3 separate regions of the Homo sapiens genome follow, and all the other regions are linked to region 1. The links come from fine-mapping of genetic effects on gene expression. A gene starts in region 1. Each other region holds a variant in brackets. All regions are shown on one strand. Distances are between the middles of the regions. Region 1 holds the start of ZFPM1 (zinc finger protein, FOG family member 1). Region 2 has its middle 6.0 kb from the start of ZC3H18-DT. Region 3 holds the start of ZFPM1-AS1 (ZFPM1 antisense RNA 1).

Region 1 (2,750 bases):
TGGCGGCGGGGCAGCAGCCTCTGACCGGGCAGGGAGCCGGACCAGCGAGAAACTTAGTGGCGTGCAGGGGCGACCCCGGCCCGGGGCTGCGTCCTGGGAGGCCCTTCTCTGACTCAGAGCAGCCCATTGGGATGCCAGGGGGTGCCCGCGGGCATCCGAGGGCACCATTTGTTGCCCATGCCGCCTTGGCTGGGACACTTGCAGGGTCCAGGAGGTGTCACCAGGCTGGCGGGGCCTGGGTTCAGGACTTCAGCGCTAGGGCACGGGGTGGGGGTGTCTGGGGGGCTGGAGCCAAGTGCCTAGGCTGCGGCAGCTGCGCGCTACCCCCTCCCCTGTCCTGCGGCTCTGCGACGGCACCGGTGGGGGTGGGCGCGGGCCGGTGCCTGCCACTTGGCCAGGCATCTCCGCGGCCCCGGGTGTCCCCTCTGCCTCCCAGGTCTCTCTCTTCGCTTCTAGATACAAAGCCTGGGAGAGTCAACCGCGCGAGATAAGATCACAATTTCAGCCCGTCCCGACAGAACGATCTTATCAGGACGGGACTTGCAGAATGTAATATTTTAAACTTTATCTGAGCCCAGATCGGGGCCGCCCTATCGCCGCACCATCTCGCAGATGCGGGGGAGGGGCAGGCCGCGAGGGGCCGAGCTGCCCGGGCCGCGCCCCCAAACACCCTCCTCCCGGCCTCCGGGCGGCCCCCTCCTGGGCTGAACCCCCCGGTGCCCAAGCCGAGACGCGGGGGCCCAGGCCGCCGGCGGAGATTAGATTACGGCGCGCTTGGCACAGCGCGGGGGGCGCGGCGCGGGGTGAAGGTCGCCGGCGCCCAGGGCAGAGCGGGGACGGGCGGGGGCGGCGCTGGCGGCTGGGCTCCGGCGGGGGTCGGGCGCGCGGAGGGGACCGCGGGCAAAGTTTGACTCACGCTTGATCTGCCGGGGGTTGCTCTGTTTCCGCCTGGACATGTCTCCGGCGCCGCGCGCCCTCCCGGCGGCCGCCTCTAGCCCCGGGCGGGCGGCGGCGGGCGGCGGGGGCGCGGCGGGGCCGCGGGGCCGCTCATGCCCCCGGCCCCCGGTCTCCGCGGCCGCCCCGGCCCGCGCCCCCAGCCCGCGCGCCCAGCCCCGGAGCCGCTGGAGCTGCCGCGGAGGCCCGAGAGGCCACGGTCCTGCGTTGCGGGCGCGCGGACTGCCCGACGGGCGGGTGCCGGCTCCTCCGCTCCCGCGCACTCGCCGCCGCCGCCGCGGCCGCTCGGCTTTTCTCAATGGAACCCGCGGGCGGCGAGCGGCGGAGCAGGCGGCCACTGCGAGGGCGCTCCTGGCGGGCTGGAGGCACGGGGCGGGGCCGGGCCTGAGCGTCGTCGGCCGCCGCACCTCCCGCCCCGCCCCCGGCGCTCCGGCCCCGCCCCGTGCCTCCTGCCGGGCCCTGCACCTCTCCGGCTCCGCCCCCAGCGCCGCGGCCACGCCCCCGCCAGCCCGGCTCTTCGTTGCTCTGGCTCCGCCCCCAGAGCCGCGACCGCGCCCCCGCCCGCCTCGCTCTTTACGGCGCTGGCTCCGACCCCAGCGCTGCGGCCCCGCCCCTGTCCGTCTGGGCCTTCAAGGCACTGTCCCCGCCCCGCTCGATGCCCCGCCCCTTCCTGGTTCGGCCCCGCCCGCGCCCCGGGGAGACCTCTAGCCTCCCCCACTCCTCTTTGGCCCGGAGGTCATGTCCCCAGGCCGCGCTGGGAGTCTGAGACCTATTCGGTTCTGTTCTGCTGCCCCGCGGCACCGCATCCTGCGCCCCGCCTCTCGGCGCCAGCTCCGCCTCCAAACCTGACCCGACCTGGTTGGGTCCTGAGACGCCGAGGCTCCGCCCCCGCACTGTAACTCCGCCCCCAGCCCTTGGTCCCTCCCTAGACCCCTGGGCTCTGCCGCACGCTCCACGTGCGCGGTGGGGGCAGTGACAACCGGCTCAGGAAGCCCGAGGCCTTGACGCCCACGTTTCTCTTGGGCCAGACTTGGGGTGTGGAGCGGATTCGGGCCAGGGAGGGGGCTTCCGTCCCAGACTGCGGTGGGGTCCGCCAACTGAGAGCAGGATCTCGGGTCTTCCCCTGTGAGCTCAGACCAGGCTGGAAATCGAGGAGGGGGCGCGGGAGCCGGCAGCCCTGGGCGTTGCCACTTGGGGCCTCTTTCCTCACCGAGCCTCTCCAGGGCGCCCCGCAGGAGACCCACGAAGGAGTTGCCCACAGCGCCCGGGCCACAGCCCCCTCTCGGAGCAGTCAGAGGTCAGCGAGGTTTGTGGGCGCGGTGCTGTCAGCTCAGGCCTGGAAATGGAGAACTGTTGCCCTCTGGGGTGTGTTCAAGAGCCCCACTTCACGGAGGCTCGGGGACTTGCTCAAGGTCACGCATTGGGGGGCTGTCCCCCACTCCCAGCTGAGTTGTATCATCTCCTTTTAATGTTCTCGGTCTACACTTGCTACCTGCTCCCCCATCCCCCGTACTCATAAGAAACGGGCGTCAGTGGGCCCAGGGGCAGACAGGAAGGACCCCTCCCACCTGATGATGAGATCATCGCACAGCAGGACTGTCACACCACCCGCCAGCCTGCTGGGAGCTCCTAAGACCCCATCTCGTGCCAACTTCTGTGACCTATTCCCTGGCTCCAAGGAAGGGGAGAAGTGGGGGCTTACCCTCAGAGCCTGGTACAGGAGAGTGGCGGGTGGGTAGGAGAGGCAGGGGTACAACACTGGATATGCGCCGTCCCTCCCCACTGCCATGGACAGA
Region 2 (2,750 bases), 100 kb before region 1:
TCTTCCACATACAGTCACGTTCACAGGGTTAGGGTTAGGGACATGGATGTCTTTTTTTTTTTTGAGACGGAGTCTTGCCTGTGACCCAGGCTGGAGTGCAGTGGTGTGATCTCGGCTCACTGCAAGCTCCGCCTCCCGGGTTCACGCCATTCTCCTACCTCAGCCTCCCAAGTAGCTGGGACTACAGGCGCCTGCCACCACGCCCAGCTAATTTTTTGTATTTTTAGTGGAGACAGGGTTTCACTGTGTTAGCCAGGATGGTTTCGATCTCCTGACCTTGTGATCTGCCCGCCTCGGCCTCCCAAAGTGCTGGGATTACAGGCTTGAGCCACCACGCCCGGCCAGGGCACCCAGCCATTTTCAGTGGCCACATCACGTGTGAGTGAGGGGACCAGTTTCTGAGCGGGGACCCTGGTTTCTGAGCCCCCGTGGTGTGCTCAGTCCTTGTGAGGTTATGGTGAGGTAAGAATAGTGGCCCCCAGCGTGGAGCCTGTTTCCATTTCTCTTTTTCTCCTTCTAAGGCAGTACAGGCGGCCCAGCTGTGCCCTCCCGAGCAGGTGAGGCTGGCTGAACCCTCTGGGTTTTCCATCCTTGCCTGTAAGTAGAGCTGAAAACAGCACTTTCGCCCAGGTGCTAGGAAACGAGATGCTGTGTGTAAAGTGACTGGTGGCTGCCTGGCCTGGTGGTAAAGGTCCCGGAAATGGGTGACTGTGTGAGTCCAGGCTCACACTGCTCTAAAGAACTACTGGAGACTGGGTCATTTATGAAGAAAGAGGTTTAATTGGCTCACAGTTCCACAGGCTGTGTAGGAAGCATGGCTGGGAGTCCTCAGGAAACTCACAATCATGGTGGAAGGTGAAGGGGAAGCAGGCACGTCCTCACATGGCGGCAGGAGAGAGAGAGAGAAAGTGGGGGGCGGGGGAAGTGCCGCATAGTTTAAAACCATCAGATCTCGTGAGAACTCACTATCTGAGAATAGTGAGGGGGAAATCCACCCCCGTGATCCAGTCACCTCCCACCAGGCCCCTCCCCTAACCTTGGGAATGACAATTCGACATGAGATCTGGATGGGGACACAGAGCCAAACCACATCAGTGGCTTTAGGGAGATCTGAGTAGCAATGAAGGCATGGCCCGCTTGGGAGAAAGTGTCTGCAGGAAGCGCCTTGTGAATTCTGCGGTGCTCACCATGGGCTGGGCGGGTTTTCAGTGGGGGCAGCAGGGCCTTGGAGATGGGGCCACACTCTGGGGAACCCTTTGGGTCGGGGAGTGAGCCCCGCTCTGTCTAGACATAGGCAGTCCCAGCACAGCAGAGGGCGGTCCTTAGGTCCGGAAGGGGGCACAGTCAGGCGCGAATTCTGGGCCCTGAGCTGGGGCCATCATCTCCTCCCGAGAGAGAGCACAGGTGCCATTGCAGGTGCTGCTAGGGTGCTGCGTGCCCTCCGAGCTTGGCGACGCTCCACTGAGCTGTGTGAGTCTCCGTCCTGGGCTCCGTGGAGACCAGGATGAT[A/G]ATAAGATGAGGACCAGTGGCTTCCAGGAGCCCCAGTCTTAGAGGTGGAGACAAAGAGCTGTGGAGGGGCTGGGGGTGGAGAGGAGCCAGGGGGTGGGCAGAGGGGGTGGGGATGGGGCGGGAGGCATGGAAGGGGCAGGGGAGAGACGAAGGGCCACTGGAGCCACATTAAGACAGAGGGGAAGTGTTAAGACTTGGAGCTGAAAATGCTGGGAATTAAGCGGAAATTCTGCTAAAAGTTTATGGTAACACACTGGGATGGGGGCCGGGTGCAATGGCTCATGCCTGTAATCCCAGCACTTTGGGAGGCTGAGGCAGGCAGATCACTTGAGGTCAAGAGTTCAAGACCAGCCTGGCCAACATGGCGAAACCCTGTCTCTACTTAAAACAAAAAATTAGCTGAGTGTGGTGGTATGCGCCTGTAATCCCAGCTACTTGGGAGACTGAGGCAGGAGGATCGCTTGAACCCTGGAGGCGGAGGTTGGAGTGAGCCGAGATCGCCTCACTGCACTGCAGCCTGGGTGACAAGAGTGAAACTCTATCAAAAAAAAAAAAAAAAGAAAGCCAAAAATGCTGAGAATTAAGGCAAAATTCTGCTAAAAGGTTATGATAACACCTGGGATGGGAAAGGTCAGGCGTGCAGGATGAGGCCCGAGGGAGAGAGATGCCCCTTGCTTGGCGCCTTGCAAGGCTGGAGGAATGGGGCCGTGGGGAAGGGCGGTGGCCCCTGGCTCAGACAAGGGTTCCCTGGTGGAGGGTTGGCAGCTGTGGGAGGGAGCGGGGAGGCTGGGAGCTGCAGGGCCTCCCTCAAAGCCAACCAGGCCTTTGGCGCCAGCATGGAGGGGCTTGGACCAGCCCTGGAAGGGGAGTCCTTTGTCCCTGTCTCCCTGCCTCCCAGCTGCCCACTGCCCATCCCTGCTCAAGAGAGGAGGCGGGAAGGCTGTGTCAGGGAGGCCCAGCTGGGCTGGGGGTGGGGCCGAGGTTGCTGCTGCGGGTCTTCAGATGAGGACTCGAATGCTCCCAGGGGCCTGGCTGAGGCGGGACCAGCGGAAGGAGTAGGGAGGAGGGCTGGGACAGAGACTGGGTCCCTGAGATACAAGGCAAGGGCAGGGGCCTGGTGTGAACTCGCCCATAACCTCCAGGTTCGAGTCTCTCCTCCTGAGTGCTCCAGACCTGACCCTTGCTCTTCCCTTGGGACCCCACTGGCAAAAGGGACTTTGCAGATATGACTGAGTTAAGGA
Region 3 (2,750 bases), 77 kb before region 1:
CTTCCGTAGATCCCAGGAGCCCTGGGACCCGTGGGGAGTGGGGTCTGAGTGAACCCCTATGGGTCCCCTTCCAATGGTGAGCCCCATAAGGAGATGCTTTGGCCTCATGGGGGCAGAAGGAAGAAGTGGACACCGCCAGGTGAGGCTAGCATCCATGACATACTGGGGTGACCGTGTGGACCCGGGAGGCCGTGGAAGAGGAAACGTGTGTGTACAGATGTGCGTGCAGGTGCGTGGGAGTGCCAGGCTGCAAAGAAAACCCACGCACACAGTCCCTGGGCACTCAGGCACACGATGGCTGCTGACTGCAGTTCTAGGGATGTGGGCATGAGACCAGGAGTGCACAAGTTAGGAAGCCCCCATGCGCCCACACACCTGGGCGGCTCCATGTCAGTGACCACCTGGCTGGTCAGATTTGTCGAATTTACCACACTGACCCCAAATGGGCTGCTTATAACTGTTGAGAGTTTTGGGGGCTTGCACTCTGCTTACGGTGGTTTTGCCAGCAGGGGAGGACTTCTCTAGCGTGTTCTCGGTTTGTCTTTATAGCAGTTTAAGGAATGTTCTCTGCCCCAGAGCCCTGCCCCATCTGCCCATGGCCCCTTGGCTGAAGACAGGGAAGGGAAGGACCTGTTCAGCTTGGCCTTGGCCTCCGTGTGGAACCCAGGGGCCCTGGGATTCCTTATCTGGCTTTCAAGCCCGTTCCACTTAGAGACTGATGTGATATCTGGTTTCTGCCTCTGCAGGTTAGTGCTGGTTTCTCACCCGGCTTCTCCGATGTTGATCCTGAGTCTGCAGTTATCACGCAGGGGTGGCCCCTACCCCCGCGCCCTCCCCTCTGCGGCCTGCTCGCCACCTCTGCCTCTTGGGAGGAATTTCAGTGCCTGGGTGAGGTGGCTCTTCCTCCTCCACCTCGCTGTTCTAACGACTTTTCTGGCTCACATCTCCCTCCTGTGCTGTTGATTTCTGTTTCTCAAGTTCCTTTTACTTGGGGGCTGCAGGCAGCTCTGTCCTCTCTCAGCTGAGGCCTTGAGCTGGGTCCCAGACCTGGGAGGCCACTGGGTGGGTTTGTTTCTGCGTCTCCAAGGTCATTGTGGGGGACTCTTGCTGCAGGGGTGTGGGGAGAGGGGCCGTGGCCATGCAGTTTAGAAAGGCTGCCCGCCTGCTGGTGACCACAGGCCAAATCTGGTGGCCTGCGGAGGGGCCTCCAGGCAGGTGCCTCTGCATCCCGCTTCACAGGCGAGATGGGCCCAGAGTGCCGGAGGCTCAAGAATGAAACTGGATCTGACCCTGGAATTGGTTCCTGCGGCTCTTCCAGAGCAGCAGACAAGCGTCGGCCGTGCCCTGGCAGCCGCAGAAGTGCTAGGGCAGGACTCAGG[T/A]ATGTCAACAAGATGTGTGGCTCACGGTGGTGTCCTTCCGAAGCAGCGTTCCCAGGACACTGCTGCCTGGGGATGAGGCATGTCAGACCCGCGAGGGGGAAACCGAGGCAGAGGCTGAGCCTGGGGCACCCGCAGCTGCCCCTCAGGGACTGGGAGGTGGTCTCCGCAGGCTGTGTGGGCAAGGACCCTGCTGGAGGACGGGACCCTCACCAGCCTGCTGTCCCCACTGTCTTACTGGCGTTATCAGCGGGGTGTTCCCCTGGAGTTGGGTCTCCCGGGCACCCCGAGACACTACGGGGGCACCCCCTCTCCATCCTGGTGGAGGGGTGCAATGGCCTCCCATCCCCTCCGTGCCTTCTTCAGGGAAGAGGAGAAGGCAGATGGGGACCCCCTTTGCTCCCGGCTCCTTTCAGTCACCTGCGGCCCGTGTTCTCTTCTGACCTCCTGGCTCCCTGGGGCAGTGGCTTGCCCAGCCCCTGCCCCCAACCTGGGCTTAGGTGTGGACCTGGCCGCTCGGCCCGTTCTCTCCAGTGTCACCAGCTATTCCCACCAGCACATAACATGGGCTATTATGTCCTGGCTACCAGGCACACAAGCCCATCCCCCTCTGGCCAGCTGGCCCCTGTGCAGGCCTCCTCTCTGACCCTCCCTGGAGCGGCCTCGGTCAGGGTCATGGCGACCTCTGCACTGTCAGGACCAGTAGTCATTTCTCTGCTGTTGGTCTCGCCACAGCCTGGATGTGCCAGACCACCTGCCGCCCTCCAGGACCCCCTCTAACCTATCTCAGCTCACTCTCCGTACCTTGGGAGATGTCCCCTGTCCCCTGACTCCAGGGTCCACAGGCCCCAGGGCTCTCTGAGCCCCATCCTTGTCCCTCAGTGGACTCTGTGGCTTCTCTTTTGCATGTAGCAGGTGTCTTGATGTCAGGACACTCAAAGAGTGGGGGTCTGCTCCCCTGACTCTCATACGGGCTGACATCCCCCCAGTGGCTGCACACTTGGCCCTGCAGGTCTCTTTGCCCCTAACCACTGGCTGCCTCCACCTACTTCAAGCCGTCTTCACATCCGACTTGCTCACAAAGGTCGCTTTTCTTCCAGTTTTGTGACTCTGTGGTCACCAAAGCTAAACCTGAGTCTTACCGTCCCCCTCCAAACGCCATCCGGTGCCGTCCCTGTTCCCCTGGGAAGCCCCAGCCGCTGGCCGGAGCCAGACTTGCTGCGTGTTCCCTGCGTGACTCGTGCCTGTCCACGATGGCCACGCGCTGTCCTTGGCCACAGAGGTGCACGGGGCGCACCATCACCCTCGGCTCATTTTTCAAAGTTTTGGCAGATATGGGATCTTCTGTGTTGCCCAGTCTGGCCTTGAACTCCT

What was found. PIP is the estimated chance that this variant, and not a neighbour inherited with it, causes the effect. A credible set is the group of variants that fine-mapping cannot tell apart.
Region 2: its variant is the best candidate, but not a certain one, in a credible set for the expression of ZFPM1 in whole blood (Lepik 2017, PIP 0.64).
Region 3: its variant is the best candidate, but not a certain one, in a credible set for the expression of ZFPM1 in thyroid (GTEx, PIP 0.76).

Annotation. Positions count from the first base shown.
Region 1 is chr16:88,451,845-88,454,594 of GRCh38, reverse strand. It overlaps ZFPM1 (zinc finger protein, FOG family member 1), which reads right to left and starts at 1,315. Exons shown (of 10, transcript NM_153813.3): 1 at 917-1,315. The coding sequence starts at 956. RefSeq lists silencers at 311-380, 601-730, 1,191-1,280, 1,291-1,590.
Region 2 is chr16:88,554,638-88,557,387 of GRCh38, reverse strand. No RefSeq gene overlaps it. Among named protein-coding and RNA genes, the nearest start is that of ZC3H18-DT, 6.0 kb to the left of the region's middle. The variant A/G (reference allele first, on the strand shown) is at 1,510.
Region 3 is chr16:88,529,070-88,531,819 of GRCh38, reverse strand. All of the region lies in intron 6 of ZFPM1 (zinc finger protein, FOG family member 1), which reads right to left. ZFPM1-AS1 (ZFPM1 antisense RNA 1) reads left to right here and starts at 767. Exons shown (of 4, transcript NR_148997.1): 1 at 767-888; 2 at 1,212-1,378. The variant T/A (reference allele first, on the strand shown) is at 1,380.